Homo sapiens: one gene and its partners. The protein of the gene in region 1 interacts with the protein of each later gene in a pairwise test. Each region holds a gene or a part of one and is shown on either strand. Other genes may lie near its edges. The genes, in order: HSPD1, MFHAS1, BOK, RGS20, DBF4, SAMD3 and CHAT.

What was found.
Region 2: the proteins of HSPD1 (region 1) and MFHAS1 interact in binary tests that used the Homo sapiens proteins (3 or more experiments, as listed by UniProt).
Region 3: the proteins of HSPD1 (region 1) and BOK interact in binary tests that used the Homo sapiens proteins (3 or more experiments, as listed by UniProt).
Region 4: the proteins of HSPD1 (region 1) and RGS20 interact in binary tests that used the Homo sapiens proteins (3 or more experiments, as listed by UniProt).
Region 5: the proteins of HSPD1 (region 1) and DBF4 interact in binary tests that used the Homo sapiens proteins (3 or more experiments, as listed by UniProt).
Region 6: the proteins of HSPD1 (region 1) and SAMD3 interact in binary tests that used the Homo sapiens proteins (3 or more experiments, as listed by UniProt).
Region 7: the proteins of HSPD1 (region 1) and CHAT interact in binary tests that used the Homo sapiens proteins (3 or more experiments, as listed by UniProt).

Annotation. Positions count from the first base shown.
Region 1 is NC_000002.12:197,489,841-197,493,340, reverse strand, and holds part of HSPD1 (60 kDa heat shock protein, mitochondrial), read left to right. Parts: coding exon 1-17; intron 18-3,044; coding exon 3,045-3,144; intron 3,145-3,500. UniProt on the Homo sapiens protein: Chaperonin implicated in mitochondrial protein import and macromolecular assembly. Together with Hsp10, facilitates the correct folding of imported proteins.
Region 2 is NC_000008.11:8,883,631-8,887,130, reverse strand, and holds part of MFHAS1 (malignant fibrous histiocytoma-amplified sequence 1), read left to right. Parts: intron 1-3,500. UniProt on the Homo sapiens protein: Probable GTP-binding protein. Functions in innate immunity and more specifically the inflammatory response as a regulator of the Toll-like receptor TLR2 and TLR4 signaling pathways.
Region 3 is NC_000002.12:241,568,745-241,571,687, reverse strand, and holds part of BOK (bcl-2-related ovarian killer protein), read right to left. Parts: intron 1,564-2,943; coding exon 1,400-1,563; intron 1-1,399.
Region 4 is NC_000008.11:53,939,872-53,943,371, forward strand, and holds part of RGS20 (regulator of G-protein signaling 20), read left to right. Parts: intron 1-3,500. UniProt on the Homo sapiens protein: Inhibits signal transduction by increasing the GTPase activity of G protein alpha subunits thereby driving them into their inactive GDP-bound form.
Region 5 is NC_000007.14:87,882,993-87,886,492, forward strand, and holds part of DBF4 (protein DBF4 homolog A), read left to right. Parts: intron 1-1,986; coding exon 1,987-2,166; intron 2,167-3,500. UniProt on the Homo sapiens protein: Regulatory subunit for CDC7 which activates its kinase activity thereby playing a central role in DNA replication and cell proliferation. Required for progression of S phase.
Region 6 is NC_000006.12:130,149,952-130,153,451, forward strand, and holds part of SAMD3 (sterile alpha motif domain-containing protein 3), read right to left. Parts: intron 1-3,500.
Region 7 is NC_000010.11:49,662,537-49,666,036, reverse strand, and holds part of CHAT (choline O-acetyltransferase), read right to left. Parts: intron 3,393-3,500; coding exon 3,255-3,392; intron 1,261-3,254; coding exon 991-1,260; 3' UTR 1-990. UniProt on the Homo sapiens protein: Catalyzes the reversible synthesis of acetylcholine (ACh) from acetyl CoA and choline at cholinergic synapses.

The DNA of each region.
Region 1 (3,500 bases):
ACACTCGTCTTGAATAGGTAATAAGCAGTGGTATTTGTTGATTTATATTTCTCGGTGAAAGACAGAATTATTTGTATTGCTGTTTGCAGTTTCCATCATGTGTACCTCCACATTTGATCCAGTTGGGTTTGTATCTAGAATTGTAATTGTGTAAATCAGGTGTGCTCTAATGTATCCTTATGGTTGTGTTTTTGAAGGAACCCCAAAGTCTTTACTATTTTGATCAGCTTTCTCATAGAATAGACTAATTTAGCACATGGGTACCTTTCTGTATTTTGCAAGTGTTTACAGTTGTTTTGAAGGCACATGACTGAATCTTGTATTTTTTTTTTTTGAGACAGAGTCTCACTCCCTGGCCCAGGCTGGAGTGCAGTGGCATAATCTTGGCTCACTGCAATCTCCATCTCCTAGGTTCAAACAGTTCTGCCTCAGCCTCCCAAGCAGCTGGGACTACAGGTGCGTGCCACCACACCTGACTAATTTTTGTATTTTTAGTAGAGACAGGGTTTCACCATATTGGCCAGGCTGGTCTCAAACTCCTGACCTCGTGATCCGCCCGCCTCAGCCTCCCAAAGTGCTGGGATTACAGGTGTGAGCCACTGCGCCCGGCCTTGTAATTTTTTTATTTTTTATTTTTATTTTTGGAGACAGAGTCTCTGTCACCCAGGCTGGAGTGCAGTAGTGCAGTGGCTCAATCTCAGCTCAAGCCTCCGGGGTTCAAGTGTCAATCTTGTTTTTTGTTTTGTTTTGTTTTGTTTTTTTAAGGTTTTTCTGGTTAAAAATATGTAAATTTTCAGAATATTATTTTGCATAGAACAGGGAAGTAAACAACTAACTTCCAAATAACTCAGAGCCAGGCATGGTGGCTCACAGCTATAATCCCAGCACTTGGGGAGGCACAGGCGGGTGGATCACCTGAGATCAGGAGTTCCAGACCAGCCTGGCCAACATAGTGAAACCCCGTCTCTACTAAAAATATAAAAATTAGCAGAGCATGGTGGCGTGTGCCTGTAATCCCAGCTACTCAGAGGCTGAGGCAGGAGAATCACTTGAATCTGGGAGGCGGAAGTTGCAGTGATCCGAGATTGTGCTGCTGCACCCCAGCCTGGGCAACAAAGCGAGACTCTGTCTCTAAATAAATAACTCAGATGTAAGTGTATTTCACCATCGAATATTTTTATTTATTTTGAGAGACAGACTCTGTCACCCAGGCTGGCCTGCGGCGGCACGATCATAGCTCACTGCAGCCTTGAACTCTTGGGGTCAAGCAATCCTCCTGCCTCAGCCTCCCAAGTAGCTGGGACTACACACTTGCACAAGCACACTTGGCTGATCTTTTAATTTTTTTGTAGAGACGAGGTCTCAATATGTTGCCTCAATATGTTGCCTAGGCTAGTCTTAAACTGTTGGTGAATCTTAAGTGATTCTCCCACCTCAGCCTCCCAAAGTGCTGGGATTACAGGCATGAGCCACTACCCTTGGCTGTGATCAAGTATTTAGTCTGTTGTTAAATGTTTACTAAATAGTCTGAAGTAGAGAAAATAGCACCCAATCTAAAATAAGGTGAGGTCTAGTCACTTATTTAAATCTACATTTTAAGCTATAGTTTACTATTAGTTTAAACTTTAAGACAGGTAATGTTCATGCTGCAGACAATCTAAGGGCATTATTAAAATGTTTGTTCTTCCTTATCTCAGAATTGAAGTATGTCAGAAGCAAGACTTTTCTTTCCATTTTGTTATAGTAGAAATGCATACATTAACAGGTACGTTTTAGACATTACACGTGCTCATCTGACCCAAAAGCTCTAATGAGCTGCCTTACCCTGGAATGTTTTTCTTAGCTTGGATTTGCTTTTTTGGAGGGATTAAGAAAAGACTTGGCTGGGCGTGGTGACTCATGCCTGTAATCCCAGCAGTTTGGGAAGCCGAGGCGGGTGGATCATGAGGTCAGGAGATGGAGACCATCCTGGCTAATACGGTGAAACCCCGTCTCTACTAAAAATACAAAAAATTAGCTGGGCGTGGTGGCGGGCTGAGGCAGGAGAATGGCGTAAACCCAGGAGGCGGAGGTTGCAGTGAGCCGAGATCTCGCCACTGCACTCCAGCCTGGGCGACAGAGCAAGACTCTGTCTCAAAAAAAAAAAAAAACACACAAAAAAAAGACTTGAGGCCAGAAAAAAACAAGCCTACAGAGTTTTCATTAAGCCATTTTACTGCTAGTTGAAAAGTGGGATATCCAGTTTACATAGCATATAGCTTATTCCTCTGATTTTTATTTGGGTCCTTAATAAAATAGACCAGCTGTCTTGAAGTTTGAACGTTGCTTCTGTTTCACAATCTGCTCTCAAATGGACATTTGATTACACATTCCAAGTATTCATTTACCTGGTAAAAATTTCAGGTGAGCTTAACAATACTGTCAGCTTTTTGTATAACATTTATAAAAGAAGTGAATTCAGAACATTGCTCATTCAAAACTCAGCATTAATATATGGAGATGTTTATTAAATGACCCTCAAATGTAATATTTAGTAATTACTGTTTTTCTACCATTCATAATAGTTATCACTGTATCCTATAACTTACTGTGATGTGATTTTTGCTGCTCGGCCTCCTGAGTAGTGGGGATTACAGGTGCCTGCTACCACATTTGGCTGATTTTTGTTATTTTCAGTAGAGACAGGGTTTCACCATCTTGGCCAGGCTGGTCTCGAACTCCTGACCTCGTGATCCACCTGCCTGGGCCTTGCAAAGTGCCGGGATTACAGGCCTGAGTCACCACGCCCGGCCAGGCCAACAGTTTATTAAGAAGGTAAACGGATATGGACAAGTATAATTAATAGAAAATAGCCTAAACTGTCTCAGATACTTCCTGTCTTAATTTGATCAAAAATTGCTAGGAAGCAAAAAAAAAACAAAAAAACACAAAAACCAAACCAGATTACTTAGGGAGTCCTAAGTAATCTAGTAACAGCTTGAGGGGAATTAAACAGATAGGCATTTTTATTTCATTTAAATCTTACTATCAACTATTCTTAACAGGCTAAAGGTTGGTCTTCAGGTTGTGGCAGTCAAGGCTCCAGGGTTTGGTGACAATAGAAAGAACCAGCTTAAAGATATGGCTATTGCTACTGGTGGTGCAGTAAGTAAAATAAATGTGATAATGGTTTGCTGAATGTTTATACTTGTCTGGAATTTATAGATAGTTTAACATTTCACAATTAGATACTACAACTATCTGTTTCTTTTGGCTCTTTGGAAGGTAGGGGTTGGATTAAATTCCCGTTAATTTGCCACAAGTCTGGCCTAAGAATGAGCTTACTGACTATTCTATATTGACTAAATCTTATTGACTGAATAAGGGGGTTTCCTTTTTTTTGTTTTTTTTGGAGACAGTGTCTTGATCTGTCTTGACTATTCTTGACTTGATCTATATTGACTATTCTTATTGACTTAAATCTGTGGGGTTTCTTTTTTTTTTTGAGACAGGGTGTCTTG
Region 2 (3,500 bases), on another chromosome or scaffold:
TTTTGAGATGGAGTCTTGCTCTGTTGCCCAGGCTGGAGTGCAGTGGAGTGATCTTGACTCACTGCAACCTCTGCCTCCTGGATTCAAGCGATTCTCCTGCCTCAGCCTCCCAAGTAGCTGGAATTAGAGGCATGCGCCACCACACCTGGCTAATTTTTGTATTTTTAGTAGAGGCGGGGGTTTCGCCAGGTTGGCCAGGCTGGTCTTGAACTCCTGACCTCAGATGATCCACCCACCTCAGTCTCGCAAAGTGCTGGGATTATAAGCGTGAGCCACTAGGCTTGGCCACCTTTGTCTTTTTAAGAAGTCATTTTGCTTCTGGGGACATTAAAAATTGTTTACTTTTATGTTTTATAAAAGCGTTAAGTTGTCCTATAAACTATAACAATTTTATATGCAACGCTGAAAAAGTTGGACTTTGAATTTTCTTAACTTTGGGATGTTACAGTAAAAGTAAATAGTAAATTACTGTCTCTCTTGATTTTATACAGAAAAAATGTATAAAGTTGCACTAATATCTTTTAAAGTATTTTTATGTGAAAAGCCTATTTTGGCCTTGTCCTGTTGGATTTTCTGGCCTGAGCTGCCCTACTGTAGTTGACCACGGGAAGTATAATGGTAAATTTCTCTTTTCTTATTTTGGTTTATACAAGAAAAGTAATGGGCAGCGTGCAGTGGCTCAGGGCTGTAATCCCTTTGCTTTGGGAGGCTGAGGCAGGAGGATCACTTGGGTCAAGGAGTTCGAGACCAGCCTGAGTAATGTAGCCAGACTCCGTGTCTACAAAAAAAAATAAAAAATAAAAATCAGCTAAGCGTGCACACTTGTGGTCCCAGCTAGTTGGGGGGCTGAGGTGGGACAATCACTTGAGCATGGGAGTTTGAGGTTGCAGTGAACTATGATTGTGCCATTGCACTCTGACCCTGTCTCTTAAAAAAAAAAAAAGAAATGATTGGAAAATGCACATCCAGCAATCACTAGTTTCATAGTTTTTTGTAAAAATAAATCACATTGTCAGAGAGAAGACCTATTTGTCTTATTTAAAATAGGTAATCTGACAACGTGATTATCTTTTTAAGACATCTTATTTAAGACAAATGGGTTGAGTGACAGGAGATTCTTTTGGAAACTCGGAGATGGCCTATGATGAAGCCTAAATGTCACTGTGAAAGTCTTGACCTGCTTTCTCCATCCTGGCCAACATCCTAGCCTGGTCAACCTGGTGAAACCCCATCTCTACAAAAAATACAAAAAAATTAGCTGGGCATGGTGGCTCATGCCTGTAATCCCAGCTCCTGGGAAGAATGAGGCACGAGAATCCCTTGAACTTGGGAGGCGGAGGTTGCAGTGAGCTGAGATTGTGCCACTGCGCTCCAGCCTGGGCGACAGGGCAAGACCCTGGCTCCGAAAAGAAAGTCTTTACCTGCTTCCTGCAGGTACCCTTTCTTTTTTGCAGACTTGCTGCCCATAGCTGGTAGCCAGGATTCCCTTCCTTTTGCTGTTTTCCTTCTCATTGGTTGGTCCTGTATACTTGTCTTAGAGCAAGTTTCTTCTTGTGGGATATTTGTTTATGCTTTTATTCTGTTCTACCAGTATGACCTCTAAACTCAAAGAGTTGGTACTCTTGAAGTTGAGTGAGGGTACATTAAGATGTGGTGGTTAGGACACGGGCCTGCAGCAAGATTCAAGTGCTTTGATATTCCTTTTAAGCAGATGAGTGAATACTGTGTTTTTGAATTGGAAGAGTGTGTCTTAGTGAGTTAAACTTGCATTGACTGCAGATTTTCACTAAATATCCTACTCTCCAAATTATTTAAGGTCATTTTAAAAAATAAGGAGAAAGCAACCCAAATCAGTAGACAGAATGAGTTATGTGGCTTTCTTTAGCTTTACTGTCTTTCATTTACTCAGTAACTTGATGCCTTTTTGTATCTCATGCCAAATGTCTTCTGTCCCTCAGTTTCTTGCACACGGAGTGTACCTCTCCGACAACACAGCATATTTGACTTGTTTTGTTGGTGTTTGGTTGCGTCATGATATATCTTTGATTAGGTTGTTCACTTGCTGCTTCTGAGCCAGAGACACACCCGAGACTTAGTAGCTTCTGCAGAGCCTCTCAGATGTTTGCTGAATGATAGTTTGGTCTTTTTGTGAGAAATAACTTTTTTTTTGGGGGGGTGGGGGCAGGGTCTCACTCTGTCACCGAGGTTGGAATGCATTGGGGCAATAATGGCTTACTGCAGCCTCGACCTCTTGGGCTCAGGTGATGATCCTCCTACTTCAGCCTCCTGAGTAGCTGGGACTCCAGAAACACCCTACCATGCCTGGCTAATTTTTGTGTTGTTTTGTAGAGACAGGGTTTCGCTGTGTTGCTCAGGCTGGTCTCAAAGTCTGCCTGCCTCAGCCTTCCAAAGTGCTGGGATTATAGGCTTGAGCCACCATGCCCTGCCTGAGAACTATCTCTTTTTCTTTGTTATTCACACACTCAGTGAAAATCCCAGGTAGTATTGTAATGATTATCTGGCTTTGTTTAGCTTCCCAACTCCCTCCCCCTCACAGTGTTCCTCCAGCATTCCCATTGTGCGTCTATGACTGGTCTTACCCTTGAATGGGTCCTTCATTTTGACCACTGAAGCAAAGCAAAATTCTTGCCTTATTATATCTAAGTTTTAGAATTACTGGAATTTGAGCATGACCTAGTTGTTTGGATTGAATTAGTCATTGTTTTTAATTTTACAAAGGTTTTTCAATATCTCTTTGGTTAAGCTTTATTAATATTGATGCTTCTTGGCTTTTCTTTTTATGAATAGGCCTCTGAACTCCCTGGGACTTTGTTTTATGTAAAAATCAAAACCTTAATCAGGCACTAGGATAAACAAATACTGTGCAGAATAGAGTTCTAGAAGGCTAGAAAGGCCTTTGGAGTATTTGAATTATTTTAAATATTAGGTGCCTCTTCTTTAAACCCTGGAATAGACTCTTAAGTCCATCTCTGCACAAGTAGTTTAGAATTTCCTAAAGTATTTTTTCTTTAATTTTTTTTTTCTTTTTGTGTGTGTGTGTGTGTGTGTGTGTGTGTGTGTGTGTGTGTTTGTGAAATAGAGATAGGGCCTTTTTATGTTGCCCAAGCTGGTCTTGATCTCCTGGCCTCAAATGGTCCTCCCCACTCAGCCTCCCAAAATGTTGGGATTAGAGGCGTGAGCCACCATACCCAACCAGTATTTTTTATTTAGTGGATATTTTATGTCATACTCTGAGGTTATTCCCCTTTGTCCGTGAAGAGGTGAGGGGCTTTAACTCTGTATTATAGGAGGGGAATGAGTGGGGAAAGGAGGAATTGGACATTTCTGTTTTTCTTCTCATCTACCTATTAACTTGCTTCTATCCATGGGAGCCCTTTCTTTTTTTTTTTTTTTTTTTTTTTTGAGACTGAGTCTCGCTCTGTTGCCCAGGCTGGAGTGTAGTGGCGCTGTCTGAGCTCATTGCAACCTCCACCTCCTGG
Region 3 (2,943 bases), about 44 Mb from region 1:
CCTTGGCGTTGCTCAAAGTGTCGTCGCCCACTGGGCACACAGTGCCCAGCCCCATGCCAGACTCCACAGGAGGAAGACAGGAGGGGACGGAAGTCTTGGGGTTTCTGTGCTGAGGGACACCTGTAGCCATGTGCGACATCTTGGGACATTGCCCTCTGCACCCCCAATTCAGCCTTCAGAGGAGACCACAGCCCCCGCAGACCACGTGACCTCAATCTCTCGAGATGCTAAAGCTAAGGCCCCAGCAGAGGGGTCTGAGCGCTGTCACCCCTGGCCGCTGATTTACACACCAGGCCAACACCCGCTGTACAGGAAAGAAGGCTAGACTCTCGGCAGGGGAGCCACCCTCCACACCCAGGGCCCAGCGGCAACTGCGGTCTGGCCGGAGCAGGGCAGGAAGTTGGGGGCGTGGAGACAGAGGAAGGGTTTGGCTCTGACACCCACCCCTCGGGGCCTTGCTTTTCCCACTCGGGAGGGCGGGGGCTGGGGCAGCGGGTCCTTAGCACAGGGGTAGGATCGGGGGTAAGTCAGTGCTGGATCTGGGCAGAGGAGAGTCCAGGGCCTGCCTGTAGGTCTCGGCCCTTGCCCCACCCCCTGCCTCACCCATCTCCCCCAGGAGTGCTCAGGTGACCACCCATCCGCCACTCCCTCCCGTACCTCTGCACCCTCGCACCCCAGCTCTCCCACCCCCACAGGCGCTCAGACACTCACCCATCCGCCACTCCCTCCTGTACCTCTGCACCCTCGCACCCCAGCTCTCCCACCCCCACAGGCGCTCAGACACTCACCCATCCGCCACTCCCTCCCGTACGTCTGTACCCTCGCACCCCAGCTCTCCCACCCCCCAGGCGCTCAGAGGCTCACCCATCCACCACTCCCTCCTGTACCTCTGCACCCTCGCACCCCAGCTCTCCCACCCCCACAGGCGCTCAGACACTCACCCATCCGCCACTCCCTCCCGTACGTCTGTACCCTCGCACCCCAGCTCTCCCACCCCCCAGGCGCTCAGAGGCTCACCCATCCACCACTCCCTCCTGTACCTCTGCACCCTCGCACCCCAGCTCTCCCACCCCCACAGGCGCTCAGACACTCACCCATCCGCCACTCCCTCCCGTACGTCTGTACCCTCGCACCCCAGCTCTCCCACCCCCCAGGCGCTCAGAGGCTCACCCATCCGCCACTCCCTCCCGTACCTCTGCACCCTCGCACCCCAGCTCTCCCACCCCCCAGGCGCTCAGACACTCACCCATCCGCCACTCCCTCCCGTACGTCTGTACCCTCGCACCCCAGCTCTCCCACCCCCCAGGCGCTCAGAGGCTCACCCATCCACCACTCCCTCCTGTACCTCTGCACCCTCGCACCCCAGCTCTCCCACCCACACGGGCACTCAGGCGCTCACCCATCCGCCGCGTCTCCGCAGCCAGGTTGCCAGGGTCTTGCGCACGAACTCCCCCAGGCAGTCCACGAGGGCGTGGACCATGGCAGGCTGGGCCTGCCTCACACAGTCCACGGCCAGCCCCGCGGCCACCGCATACAGGGACACCACCTTGCCCCACGTGATGCCTGCAGGGAGAGAGATGGTCAAGATCAGGACTTGAATCCCGCCCACGGGAGCACTTAAGGAAGGGGCTGGGCCTCTCTGAGCCGCTGTCCTGCTTGCCGTCCAGCTAATGACCAGGGACCGTCCCAAGGGGGGACCGCTCCCTGACAGGATGCCTGTCAGGTAGTTCTTGGGCAGGCAGGTTTCTCGGCCTCCACTGCACACCTGCCCAGCCCACGTCTGTGCAGGAGGCCGCAGGGACAACGTGGGGTGAGGCGAGGGAACTGAGGGCAGCAGCAGATGGAGTGAGCAGCCAGTGACCTCACGGGTGGCACCCCTGGGCTGCCTGTTCCCACAACAGGCCTGGCGTCCACATTTTACACATAAAGAAGCTGAGGCCCGCAGAGAAACTGCCTTCCCCAGACCCCTAACCTGCTGAGGCTGAACTGAGATGGGAGCAGCCTTGAAAGAGAGGACGAAAGATGGTGACAGCGGGGGAAAGAATAAAAGGCAGGACACGACGCCTCAACACGGAAAGACGTCTTATACGTGAGCGAGAAAAGAGAGGCTTTCAAAAAAGAACTATGAGCACAGAACTGGAACAGCTGATTCACAAAAGAAAATTATAATAAGAGACACGAAAAATGTTTACCTTCATTAATAACCAAAGAAAGGCAAATTAAAACAAAATGTAATCTGTTGCATTAAAAGCTTTTACGCCAGGCGCGGTGGCTCACGCCTGGAATCCCAGCACTTTGGGAGGCCGAGGCGGGCAGATCACAAGGTTGGGAGTTCAAGAGCAGCCTGACCAACATGGTGAAACCGTCTCTACTAAAAATACACAAAAAATTAGCCAGGCGTGGTGGCACGCGCCTATAATCCCAGCTACTCGGGAGGCTGAAGCAGGAGAATCACTTGAACCCGGGGAGGCGGAGGTTGCAGTGAGCTGAGATCGCGCCAGTACACTCCAGCCTGGGCGACAGAGCGAGACCCCGTCTCTAAATAAATAAATAAATACATGCTTTTAAATGGCAGTGTGAGGATTCAGGCCACTGCACAGCCTTGTAAACCTTGGTGGGAAGCCCAGCTTGAGGGCACTGGCAGTATCTGAATGGCCACAAAACATGCAGCCCAGCAGTGATCCCCGCAGGGAGTTAGCAGCGGTCCCCGGAGGGAGTCAGCAGTGGTCCCTGGAGGGAGTTAGCCTGAGGACACTGTACATGCAAAGATGAAGCACTGCTCTCCAATCCACCCTCATACAGCGGCCAACCTGGATTTGTTATGAAAACATAAATCAGCTCAAACAAACACTCAGTCACAGACATTCACAGCAGCCAATTCACAATTGCCAAAAGGTGGAAAGAACCCAAGTATCCTTCAACAGATAAATGGATACAAATGTG
Region 4 (3,500 bases), on another chromosome or scaffold:
GGGACACCCAAGAAATAACAACAGGCTGCATCTGTCTAGCTCTCAAGGGGTTTATGCTCAGATCCCTCAAATCAGGCCAACGTGTGTTAAACAACTAAAGAACAACCTCAGGCGGTTCACGATTGACTATCAACATTTGGGCAGAAATGGTTAGAAAGAATTGGACTCGAGGCACTCCTGTGGTAATGAAGGCTTAGGATCTAAGATAGGTCTTAAAGGTTAGGGCGATGAAGTAGAGGGAGCCTGGATTTTACCTTCTGCTGCTTCCATTTCATAAATTTTGTTTTGTAATAAAGAGAAATGTCAAAATATGTGTTTTAAAGAGAGAGAAATATTAAAATATATGCTAACTTACTGGGTAGAGGAAGACACACAGACAGTCATTGCTTTAAAAAGGAAAGAAACGACTTGAATGTAAAACATCTGTGACCCTTTGAGTAGCTGTTAAAGGTCTGGAGAAAAGGAGATAATTTACACCTAAAAATCATGGGAACTTTAGGTTACATCTTTGGAATCTTGGATATGAAAAGTGCTTAGTGCCAGCCAAGTTTGTGAACCACTTTCAGCAATCAAATCATCCTAAATTTATGTAGGCTTGGCAGTAAGTTAGACCAAGACCTCACTGTCTGCTGGAAGAGAAGAAAAACTGATAATGGACTGATCACGAACCGTGAAATGGAACTAACAGAACTGATCCCTGGGGAGGAGAGTGGAGTTGAAAATGAAATGCCCGGGGAAGTTTGGTGGCTCCTGCCCAACTCAGGCTAGTATTCATTTCCAAGAAGTTCCAATCTGGTGGAAGGGACACAGCAATAGAACATCCACCAAGGGGATCCCGATACCGATGGTCTCTTCATTCCCACAGCAAGAGGAAACGTGGCCATGGGGCTGACAAGAGCTAGGCAGTGTCAAGGTGAGACTTCAGCCCCTGGTAGGAATCTGGACAGCTCTGCAGGAAGCCAGAGGAGAGGCGCTGGTGGTGGGCAGAGGAAACACGTGGGTGTCCAGGGCCTGCCCTAAAGGAGGAAGACACCAGTGATGGCCAGACTGCATTTAGGGGCCTATATTCTCACTCTGCCAGTAGGTCTCAGTGGGGAAATGAGACCATCCTCCTAGAGATGTGCAGGATGTCCAGGTGCAGGTGAGACTCCAGCTGACGTTCAAACCTTCCGCTCCCTCCTTTCTCTGCTGCCTCACGCAGGGTGTGGGAGGCGGCTGACATGCTGACCTGAACAACGTATTGTCCCGGGATAGTGTAAGGCTAGAGGGCGGGTCAGGTCCCAGAGCAGGCTCCTCCTACAGGTAACAAGTAGGACGAATAAAATAAGTATCTGTACCTAAGACACTATCATCACCATCATAGCCAACACTTCTGTAGTACTTAGGTGTGTGTAGAAGAGACAATAGAGCAATATCTTCAAAGTGCTGGAGAAAAGTAACTGAAAACTCCGTCAAACCATAATTCAAGAGTGTGGGTAAAATAAGACATTCTCAGACATACGAAGGCCAACCGAGTTTACTGCCTGCAAACCTAAAAGAACCGAAGAAAGGGCCTACTTCAGAGGAAAAAAAGGGAACCCAGAGGAAAGACTCAGGAAACAAGTAACAATCATAGATACAACGGGGTCAAATATTGATATAAAATGTGGCAATGAATTTTGTGTTAAAAAGTGTGAAACCAAAGCTGTAAACAATCTCATGTCAATGACATACAATCAAATAATTCAGACTTTCTTAGAAAAAATTATTAAAAGAAAATTTTCTTTCAAAAGTAATGTTATTCATAATTAGTCCAAAAATACACCCTATAGTTTTAACATCAGTGAAAGACAATAAATCTAGAAAACCTTACCAACACGTGATAAAAGTGACATCAGCAAAGGAGAAAATGAACTATTCAGTAAATAGCAGGATACTTGGTATTTGGGTACCAACTCATCCCCACTGATAGGACTTTCTCAGTTTTAGCACTGAAAGGTCCCATAGCCCAGAAAACCTGAAAACCCTAGGCAAACCAGGAAAATTGGTCATCCTGCTTGGTATCCAAATATATAAAAATGTATTTATATTCCTACATAGCACCATATACAAAAATCAATTCCCACCTTAAAAAAAAGATCAGCTGGGTGCGGTGGCTCACGCCTGTAATCCCAGCACTTTGGGAGGCCGAGGCCGGCAGATCACATGAGGTCGGGAGTTCGAGACCAGCCCTACCAACATGGAGAAAACTCGTTTCTACTAAAAATACAAAATTAGTCAGGCATGGGGGCACATGCCCATAATCCCAGCTACTCAGGAGGCTGAGGCAGGAGAATCGCTTGAACCTGGGAGGCAGAGGTTTCGGTGAGCCGAGATTGCACCATTGCACTTCAGCCTGGGCAACAAGAGCAAAACTCCATCTCAAAAAAATAAATAAATAAAAAATAAAACACAAAAATTAGCCAGGCATGGTGGCGCACACCTGTAGTCCCAGCTACTCAGGAGGCTGAGGTGGGAGGATCGCTTGAGCCCAGGGAGGTTGAGGCTGCAGTGAATGATGATTGTGCCATTGCACTCCAGTGTGTGTAACAGAGTGAGACTCTGTCTGAAAAACAAAAACAAAAAAAAAAGAAAAGAAAAACCTATACCCTGGAAAAACTTCTCACACCCCTGCAAAAAAAGGAGACATGTATGAGAAGATTCACTACAGCATTCATCTGAGTGAGAAAAATTTAAAATGGTTCTAAAGGGTATAGACAGGAGAATGGATGAATATATTGTGGTATAGTTATACAATCCACTACCATACAGCACTTAAATTCATATACTAGAAAAACAAAACTAAACAAATAAATAAGTTAGGCGTGGTGGCTTATGCCTGTAATCCCAGCACTTTGGGAGGCCAAGGCAGAAGGATTGTTTGAGCCCAGGAGTTCGAGACCAGCTGGGGCAACACAGCGAGACCATGTCTCCACTAAAAAAAAAAAAAAAAAAAGTTAGCCCGGCATGGTGGCATGTGCCTGTAGTCCCAGCTACTCTAGAAGCTGAGGTGGAAGGATCACTTGAACCCAGGAGTTCAAGGCTGCAGTGAGCTATGATCATGCTACTGCACTCCAGCCTGGGCAACAGAGTGAGACCTTGTCTCAGAAATAAATAAATTCATATGCTAGAGGGAAAAAAAATTATAAAGCAATACATGTTACATAATTACATTTATACTATGTTTAAAAATATGTTTATGAATATAATATAGTAGCATAATTATGAATTGGAATGGTAAACAGTAAGTTAAAAATGGTGGCTCTCTCTAGGGTAAAGAGAGGAAGAAATGAGATGGGGAAAAGTACACAGCAAACTTCAACTGTTTTAATAGTGAATTTCCTTGTTTTTTTTCACCACACTTTTGAGATTTATCCATATTAATATACATAGTCAAGTCAATTTTCAAGAAAAGTAAATGGCAATTTCTTTTCTAAGTACTTGTGAATCTTTCTCAACATTTTGCTGTAAGGCCTTCTGGT
Region 5 (3,500 bases), on another chromosome or scaffold:
ATTTATTATTCACAATAGCTAAAAAGTGTGAACAGCCTTAATGTCCAACAAGTAAATAGATAAAGAAGAGGTTGTATATACATACAATAGAATATTATTCAGCTTTAAAAAGGAATGAAATTCTAATACATGCTACAACATGGGTGAACCACAAAAAACGTGCTAAGTGAAGGAAGCCAGTTACAAAAGAACAAATGTAGGATTCCATTATATGAGTTATCTAGAATAGCCAATTTCAGAGATGGAAAGTAGAATAAAGGTTATGAGGGGCTGGGAAAAATGAGGAATGAGGAGTTACTGTTTAATGGGTACAGACTTTCAGTTTGGGATCATGGAAAAGTTATAGAAATGTTTTAGTAGTGATGGTTGCATAATGTGAGTGTACTTACTGCCGTTAAATTGTACACTTAAAAATGGTTAAAATGGCTAATTTTATATTTATCACAATAAAAGTGTATAGGAGATCGGGTTTCTTATGAAAAATTAGAACCTCTGACATTATTAGGGCCTCATATTTATGAAAATGAAGGCAGTATTTGATGTGTGAATTATTTGTATTATTGCCTGGCCCTTATAGGCATTTGAGTCTAATCCCTGGAATAAATAAATGTAGGTACATTATTTACTGTTCAATGAAAATGAATGTTGGTCGGAAAAGAAATGATTTGCACTTAACCAAGGAGGCCACTGGTCTCAGTAGCAAATGCTGCTTAATGCTTAGATGAAGTTAACTTATCTGTTACACACTTCATTTTTATTATCATTTATAGTGTGGGATCCTATAGAAAATAGATACAGCTATTTAAAATATTCTGAGAAGTCTTTCATGGATGTAAATTGTTACTGCTTATTAATGATTCACAGTTTACTTCTGCTTAGTGGGTATTTATAGTATACATATTTATACTATGTATTTTTCTAATAATATTAGTAATTCTACTTAGTATTTACTTCTCCCTATTTTTATTTTCCTGACCCTGGCGATCTTTAATAACCTTCACTTTGGTACATGTCTTTATAAGTAAATTCAGATACTTAGGCGGTGGTTTTCAAACATTTTAGTAAAGAAATTCTATTCAAACAGTCTTACACTCTTAAGCGTAAAGGTTCCCTCCATCCTGTAAGTTGAAGCCTCAAGGGAAGGTGTAATAATGATTGATTTAGACTTGTATTGTCTGCTATGGTAACCATTAGTGATATGTGGCTATTAAATTTAAAGTCTTTAAAATCAAATTTAAAAATCAGTGGCTTGAGCTAGGCGCAGTAGTGTGTGCCTGTACTCTCAGGTACTTGGGAGGTTGAGGTAGGAGGCTCTCTTGAGCCCAAGAGTTCAGGGCCAACCTGGGCAACATAACAAGACCCCATCTCTTAAGAAACAAAAAATTCAGTGGCTTAATCACACTACCAAGGCCATTTCAAATGCTTTGGTAAGTTGTATTGGACACTGCTGCTTTAGATCATGGGCTTGAGTCAGAATGCCTATGTTCAAATTATATTATTTGCTACTGGGTAACATTAAGCAAGTCACCTCTCTTCACTTTTTATCCTGCAGAAAATGTAGATAGTATCATGAGGCTGTTCCATAGATTAAGTTAATTAACATATATAAAGTATTTAAGAATAGTATCCAGCACATGCTGCTGTTGTGCTGTTATAGGAGCTCTTATACTTCCTCAGAGATCTAGGTTCAGAAAAATACAGTATAAAAACCACCAATTTACGAAATAATTGCATCAAATTGAAATTTTTTACTGTGCTTGGCATATGAAACAGTTTATGGTTTTTATGACCTAGTTGAAAATACCTTGGTGGCATGTGCCTATAGTCCCAGCTGTTCAGAAGGCCAAGGCGGGAGGATCACTTGAGAACAGGGGGTTGAGGCTGCAGTGAGCTATGATTGTGCCACTGCACTCTAGCCTGGATAACACAGTGAGACCGTGTTTCTTAAAACAAATTTATAAATAAAAATACTTTGTTCTCTTCTAGCGAGTTGAAGAATTTCTCAGCAAAGATATCAGTTATCTTATTTCAAATAAGAAGGAAGCTAAATTTGCACAAACCTTGGGTCGAATTTCTCCTGTACCAAGTCCAGAATCTGCATATACTGCAGAAACCACTTCACCTCATCCCAGCCATGATGGAAGTTCATTTAAGTCACCAGACACAGTAAGTCTCTTAAATATGCTTTGAGACTCAGAAGGGCTATATCCTGAAGATCTCCTGGTTTTTAATAGCAAGGTGGCAGTAGAGTTTACTTATGTAGAACATTTGCAAAGCCACATGATGTGTGGCTCTCTAGTCCTCAATAAAGTTGCTGTCTTTTAGGAAGGTGGGTTTTTCCTAATAGTTCTTGTGTAATCATACTCTGATTGCTTAGGTATACCCTTGTATTTAGGGATGGCGTGTAGTTTTTAGAATAATTTACAACTAAAAAGTTAAGAGCAGATCATTCTTTGAAGAAGAAATAGAAACCTTTTTAATTTTCAGAGCAGGGGTCAGCAAACTCTGGCCCATGGGCCAAATCTAGTCTGTTGCCTTTTTTGTACAACCTGCAGGTTAAGCATGGTTTTTACATTTTCAAATAGTTGTGTAAAAATATCAAAAGAATATTTTGTGACAAGTAGAAATTTTATGACATTCAGATTTCATTGTCATAATGTTTTATTGGAACACAGCCATACCTGTTTGTTTAGGTATAATCTGTAGTTGTTGTGTTTTAGGCAGAATTGAATAGTTGCTGTAGAGACCATATGGCCAACAAAGCTTAAAATGTGTACTGTCTGGTCCTTTGCATAAAAAGGTTGCCAGCCCCTATTCTAGAATTATTGAAATCACATCCCTACCACTCCATGGCCAGTAAATTGAAAGATGCAAGGAAAGACAAATTAAATTGATTTAATTGGGTGTGAGGTGGGATAGGATCAAATGAGAGATAAAATGTTTATTTCAGTTTTTAGGTTGAAGTGTAATTAAGTTATTATTTTACAATATTCTCCTCGACTTACCTATTATAGCCATTTGAAAATTAAGGAAAATGAGGAGAAAACAGAAGAAATGAGTCAGAAAGGAGCTATCACTTGAAAAAAGAGATACAATACATAGAAGAAAGAATGGAAAAGAGATCAAGAAAGGACCATGCATTCTCTGAGTTAATGCTTTTTTGGAGCAAGGAGACAATACACCAGCGATTCCAAAATAATTGTTGGTTATGGCATTTCAACGAGTTTTCCTAGTACTTTATTTAAAAAGTGAAGTAACGGCTGGGTGCGGTGGCTCACGCCTGTAATCCCAGCACTTTGGGAGGCTGAGGTGGGTGAATCACGAGGTCAGGAGTTCAAGACCAGCCTGGCCAACATAGTGAAACCACATCTCTACTTAAAAAAAATACAAAAATTAGCCGGGCATGATGGTGCGTGCCTGTAGTCCCAGCTACTTGGGAGGCTGGGGCAGGAGAATCACTTGAACCCGGGAGGCAGAGGTTGCAATGAGCTGAGATCACA
Region 6 (3,500 bases), on another chromosome or scaffold:
TACTCAGACTGGATAATTTCTATTAATCTATCTGCAGATTCACAGCTCCTTTCTTTTCATTTTCCAATATGCTTTTAAGCCTACGCACATGGTGATGTTTTCATTTCAGATAACTGTTCTTTTCAGCTCTGAATTTCAATTTGGTTCATGTGTGTGTGTGTGCGCGCGTGTGTGTGTGCGTGTATTTCATTTCTCTGCTGAGATTCCCTATGGTGATGATACATGGAATTTACTGGTCTTATCCTGTTCCCCACCGTCCTGTCCTGAAGCAGCTGGCTTGCCAGACTGGTGGAGTGGCCTGTTGAAGACTCAGTTACAGCACCAGCTAGGTGGCAATACCTTGTGGGGCTGGGACAAGGTTCTCCCAGGCTGTATAAGCTCTGAATCAGCATCCAGCATACAGTGCAGTTTCTTCCATAGCCAGAATTCATGGGTCCAGGAACCAAGAGTTGGAAATGGGAATGGCGCCGCTCACTGTAACCTCTAGTGATCCACTAGTGGGGAGTCTGGATTAAATTATGTTCCTTTAAAGGGTGTTAAATTTTGTTCTGATAGGCAGATAAATTATGGTGGATCTTCTGGTCCTGTCAGACTTGATTTTATCATTTCTTTCGGCAATTCTGTTTTGTTGTTTGTCCTTAGTCCTAGCTAAGGTCCTGGCTCAAACTTAGGCATGGTTCTCACTCATGAGGCATTGTTTTCTGGAGTCTCAGATGAATGCTGAGGTGTTCTGCAGGGTCTCTACACACTGGGCCAGAATTCTTTTTTTTTTTTTTTTGAGACAGAATCTCACTCCATCGCCCAGGCTGGAGTCCAGTGGCACAATCTCGGCTCACTATAGCCTCTGCCTTCCAGGTTCAAGCCATTCTCCTGCCTCAGCCTCCTGAGTAGCTGGGATTACAGGTGTGTGCCACCACACCCGGCTAATTTTTGTATTTTTAGTAGAGACAGGGTTTCACCATGTTGGCCAGGCTGGTCTCGAACTCCCGACCTCAAGTGATCTGCCTGCCTCAGCCTCCCAAAGTGTTGGGATTACAGGCGTGAGCCACCACACCTAGCCTGAATTCTTATTAGCAACACTGTGTGAAGTCTCGGCTCTCAGCCAAGGATCCCCAGGGGATCCGTGTGTAGACTTCGGCCCAGCCCACTTTCCTCCAGTGCCTGTCCTACAAAGGCCAGCTGCTTCATCATTCCTCAACTTTAATCTCTTCCTGTGCAGCTCCATGAGACCTCCGCATGCTGCTTGCCTCCCACCATTCTGTACAGTGAGCTAGAAAGTAACCCATGCACAAAACTGAGGCACATCTTATGTCTTTCCGTTACCAAGGATCAGGGTCCTGCATTGCCTGTACCTTAATGCCTGAGTGCAGTTGCCTCATACATATTTTTTTTTTCCAGCTTTATCCATGTTAACAGTGGGAAGACTAGACCAGTACCAGTTACTCCATTTGGGCCAAAACCAAACTCAAATTCTTTATTTTTTAAATTTATTTATTTATTTATTTTTAACACGGAGTTTCACTCTTGTTGCCCAGACTGGAGTGCAGTGGCGCAATCTCGGCTCACCGCACCCTCCGTCTCCCAGGTTCAAGCGATTCTCCTGCCTCAGCCTCCTTAGTAGCTGGGATTACAGGCATGTGCCACCACGCCCGGCTAATTTTGTATTTTTAGTAGAGACAGTGTTTCTCCACGTTGGTCAGCCTTGTCTCGAACTCCTGACCTCAGGTGATCTGCCCGCCTCGGCCTCCCAAAGTGCTGGGATTACAGGCATGAGCCACCATGCCTGGCCGATTTTTTTAATTTTTTGAGACTTTATTAGCTGGCGATTCTCACGTACTTCACTTAAAGAGATGATGATTGAAATTGTTTCTCAGGAAGGCAGAAACTATGGCATCTGAAAGGATTTTTTGGAAAATTTGGGGAAGGGTTTCAGTTTGTGTTTGGTATTTTCCTTCTCAACTCCCTCCTACTTGTCTTGTGCAACATCCAGTAGATCCCAGTAACACATTCCTAGTTGATAATATTTTAGATAATCTAATAAAGTAAATGGTTACATTCTGAATTTTTAAATGCCTTGTTGAAAGAAAGTTTTTTGAGGAAGGAGGTTAATGAGCATGGAGGTGATGGGGGGTCAGTGTTAACAGCCAGGACCACCGCCCACCCCGGCTGCTGCTGTTCTGCCACCCTGTCTCCACCAGCTCCCTAAGCACTCAGTGTTTTCACAATGGCAGGAGCAACAGGCGGTGGGGGTGGTTTGGTGCAGGGACAACTGTCCTCTTACGGGATCATTTGTTAACTAGGTATTTGCGAGGTCAAACTTGCTTTTATTTTAGGAGGCACACAAGAGTTTTATAAATTGGAAATCCCAGCTGCCTAGGGCTGAGTCAGGGAGGTACTTCCTGGAAAAACCGAAAATGATTCGTTCTTTTGTCTAAAACAATCAGGTCGGGCACGGTGGCTCACAGCTGTAATCCCAGCACTTTGGGAGGCTGAGGCAGGTGGATCACCTGAGCTCAGGAGTTCAAGACCAGCCTGACCAACATGGTGAAACCCCATCTCTACTAAAAATATAAAAATTAGCCAGGCGTGGTGGCGTGCATCCGTAGTCCCAGCTACTTGGGAGGCTGAGGCAGGAAAATCACTTGAACCTGGGAGGCAGAGGCTGCAGTGAGCCAAGATTGTGCCACTGCACTCCAGCCTGGGCGACAAAGTAAGACTCTGTCTCAATAAATAAATAAATAAATAAATAAAACAATCAACAGGCAACTCTATTCAATAAGTACAGTCATTACAAAAACCATACTCCATATTTTGGATATAAAGGGTGAAATACTTGAGGAATGGTGCGGAAGATACACCTATGCCACAGCAGGAGGCCTGGACAAAAGCACAGGGGACAGCATCAGGTCTGAAATCTCTCTGCTCCTCACATAAGCTATGACAGACCTCCACCTTACTGTCACCAATGGTTCTTTGAAAAGCTGCTTAACATAGTCCATTTATATTCATCACTAAGCCTTTGTAGGCCACACTCCAATGAAGACCCCTAAGGCTACGACATTAGTGATCACAACAGCCTTACCAACCTCCACTAATTCACTCAGCATTCACAAAATCAAGATTACATTGCTGTGTCACACGTGGTGCTCTGCTAGGCACTTTGGGAACTGTTAATATTAACACGTGCTCCCTACATGTAAGGAGTGTATAGACCGTAAGTTTGACAGGCTTTTGCTTTAAAACTGTATTTTGCAGATGTGTCCATTTGGCATACTTTTCTAACAGCCAGAGATGACTGGCTATTACAGTTCCTTACAACCTGAAGATTAAGGGGAAACAAGCGAAAGCCACAGTATGGTTGCTGAGAGGATTAGGTAGATTAATCCGTGGAAAGCACTGAGAACATGCTGTTACAGAGAAGCATTCAGATATTTGCTACTTATGTTTCTATTAAAATAATACAGGCAATTCTTATTTCCCTTTGCTCAGAAGAAAAATAT
Region 7 (3,500 bases), on another chromosome or scaffold:
AATTAATGTCAGGGTGGTTTTCTTAAAAATCTCTGTCTTAAAACAAAACAGATAATGGAAAAACCCAAAGTAACCATCTCTCTTCACCTACTGGAGCATGTAGGAGGGGAGGAGAGGGGAAAAGATGCAGAAAAAATGCAAATGGCAGGACCCCGGGAAGGGGCCAGGTCCTCTGCAAACCCACCGGCACCAGGCACCATCTGCTTGGGGCTGTGCAGTTTACTCATCTTGGACTGGCCCTGATGCCGCCTGCTAAGCAGAGAGTGGCAGCAACTCCAGGGCAGTCACAGATAAATTTTTTTTTCCTTTCAGAATAGCTGGACACAATTTTCTGAGCTCAACAGAAGGCTGCCCCTGGGCACGAAAGCAGAAATGTGTTTGTGGGCCCAAGTCACTATATTTTAAATGGACTTGGGCTCTGTGGTGTGTGTGGGAGGAGTGGGTGCTTGTAGGACTGTACGGCTCAGTGGAGACACTGGGAATGCCACGATAAGAATGCTCTGAATCTCAAAACACAGCCTCCTCTCCCCCAAAAAAGAAAAGAGGTAATGACCTGGAGTTAGCCTCTTCCTTCCTAACTCATTAGGTACGTTGCATGTAATAGAGTGACTCATCCTTTCCTTGGGCAGAAGCATCACCTGGACATACTAGGTCCTGCTAGGGAAGGAGACATGAACACTAAGCTTCCAAGGACCACAGAAGGAGTCCTTAGTGTGGTTCCCCAGTGCATCCAGGCTGCCTCTGAGCCAGGCAGGTCCCATTTCCCAGTGTGCAGGCCCAAAGCCACCTTGAAAATGATGATTCCCATGCATGAAGAGGGGACCCTTTCCTCCTAACACTCCGGCTCTGTGTGATGTCTCTGTATGGTCTGTGAGTTGGACCCTGAGGACAGGGAGCTGTGGAAAGCTGGGGTAAGGGACGGGAGTGGGGATCTGCAGGGTCTGGCTGTTCTAGAGGCTGGGTTTGGGAGGTGAAACCTAGTGGCAGGAGTCAAGGTTGGTGTCCCTGGCTGGGCCTCGTGGCTTTTTCCTTTGTTGCCAATGGCTTGCTCTCAGTAGGCGGCAGCAGACTGCAGAGGTCTCTCATGTCAATGAGGCTTTCTTCCACAGCTTTTGCAAACTTGCTAGAAGAAGTCTCTTTGCAGCTGTGAAAGCTAGAGATGCAGAAAAGGATGGTCTCTGGCTGGGGGTTGTAGCAGGCACCATACCCATTTGGGACCACAGGACCATAGCAGCAGAACATCTCCGTGGTTGTGGGCACCTGGAGGAGAGGACAGGTCAGGAGCTGCTTGTTCTGGAATGCAGCCCGCCAGCCTCGACTGGGCTTGGCTTCTCTGTTTTCCACCTGGGGGTTTGACTGAATTAACCAAATCAAGTGATTGCTTTAGCATGGATGGACACAGCCAGAGTCATAAAAACAGACCCATCTAACTGCATGATATCAGAGGATGAGGGGCCCCAAGCCCACTCCCTGGTGTGCAATCTGCTCTACTTGTGGAGTTGGAAGCTCCCGGAGTGACCTGGTGCTAGGTCTTGGGCTGAGTCTCCACTTCACCTGGGGGCCATTTGAGGCACGGAGGCAATCAGGTAATTTACTAAATGGTCCCCTGGTGGCACCCCATAGTTAGATGCTTTCCGGAGGGAGGAATTTATGAACTGGAGGAAATCTGGCCCATCCTCTGTGTCGATTTCCCCCAGATCCTTAATTACTGTCAGTATTGCCTGGCTTCTCTGATTTCTCCCTGCAGCCTGGCCATGCACAATTACCCAGAGTTGGGTGTTTCAAAGATTGCCATCAGTTTTACTTATGCACCTAGTATGTTTTGAATCAGAGTGCTGAGATTTTGTAATCCAGATCACAAACCAAGAAAGTATGTTTCTGAAAGCATTCAAGCCATAAATGCTGCTTTCCAGTTGGAAAACAACAAAACTCCCACACCCCAGATTAATTTTATTAGCTGGTCCTTGGGAAAAAAAATAGAAAGGATTCTTGGGCAGGTGCAGGGCCTGGTTTGTTTTAAACCTACAGGTTTCTGGTGCTGTGTGCTGAGGCCTTTGGAAGTGACACTGGCTGTTTTAATGGGGCAGAACAAACCATTAGTCTTGCTAATAGAGTCACCACATTGTCAGATAAATTTGCCGTGCAATAGCCGAAGGCCATAAAGCCATTCCAAAGCACTTTTTGCCCATGGATGATTTCCTGAGAAATTTATGGTGCTGTGTTCTGTCCTCGTTTATTCACGTCTGCATGCTCACTGCCATAATGACAACATCCCATTACTGAGTGGGCTTCTGTCCTCAAACACAGCTTATCAACTCCAGTACTGCCCATCCAGCCTTTCGCAGATGAGGTGGCATTTTAGTAAATTGATGGCTGTGGGGCATTTCCCCTCCTAAACCACGACCTCTCTCTAATGGATTGCATTCTGTCTTTGTGGCAGTGGCTCTCATACAGGACACGCTGAGGCACTGGTTAGATGTTGGGCTGGCCACGAATGTTCTGCTGTTGGTTGCGTGGCCCTTTATAATAATATCTGTGACCTATTTAGAGGGCCCTGTCCATGCCAGGCCCTGGGCTGGGCTTTCTCCCTACATAATTGTATCTGGCCAAGCCAAGACTTCACTGCAGACCTGCTGGGCATCAGAGCCCGTGGAAACCGCGGCAATAGATTGAAAGGTAGTAAGGTGTAATGGTTAGGGCACCAGAATGGGTATGTTCCTGTACTGTCTCCACCTCGGCTAAGTAGGGTCTGCTGATTACTCCCATTTAGGAGATGGGAAACCTTCTTCTTCCTTTTTTCTTTTTTTGAGACAGGGTCTCACTCTGTCACCTGGGCTGGAATGCAGTGGTGCAATCAGGGCTCACTGCAATCTCCACCTCCCCAGCTCAAGCAATCCTCTTATTTCAGCCTCTTTAGTAGCTGGGACTTCAGGCACGCACCACCATGCCCAGCTAATTTTTAAAAATAGGGAGATGAGGTCTCCCCATGTTGCCCAGGCTGGTCTCAAACTCCTGGGCTGGAGCAATCCTCCTGCCTCAGCCTCCCAAGGTGTTGGGATTATAGTTGTAAGCCACCAAGCCTGGTCAGTAAACCATCTTCTAATGAACATTCAGATCATTTTGCTGAAGATCACATAGTTCAGAAAAAGCAGAGGCAGGATTTGCCTGATTCCAGCTAGTGGGCTTGTTGTCACTGCTCTTTAGAAAGCTTACTGACTACACTACTCTTGGGCGATAGCTGCACGGGGCCGTACCTGGCTAGTGGAGAGGACAAACCGGTTGCTCATCAGGTAGGTTTCATCCATGAACATCTCGGGCAGCTCCTTGCACATGGCCCGGGCCAGCTCCCGCAGTGCCAGCAGGTGGTTGTCAATGGCCATCCCTGTTATGGCCTGTGTAGTTGGGGACAAAGAACAGGAGATGAGAAGTGGGCCTCCTGCACCTCCTTGTTCCCTGCTCTGTAGTCTACAGGACTGCTGGTGACTCCAGCAGCCACGGCT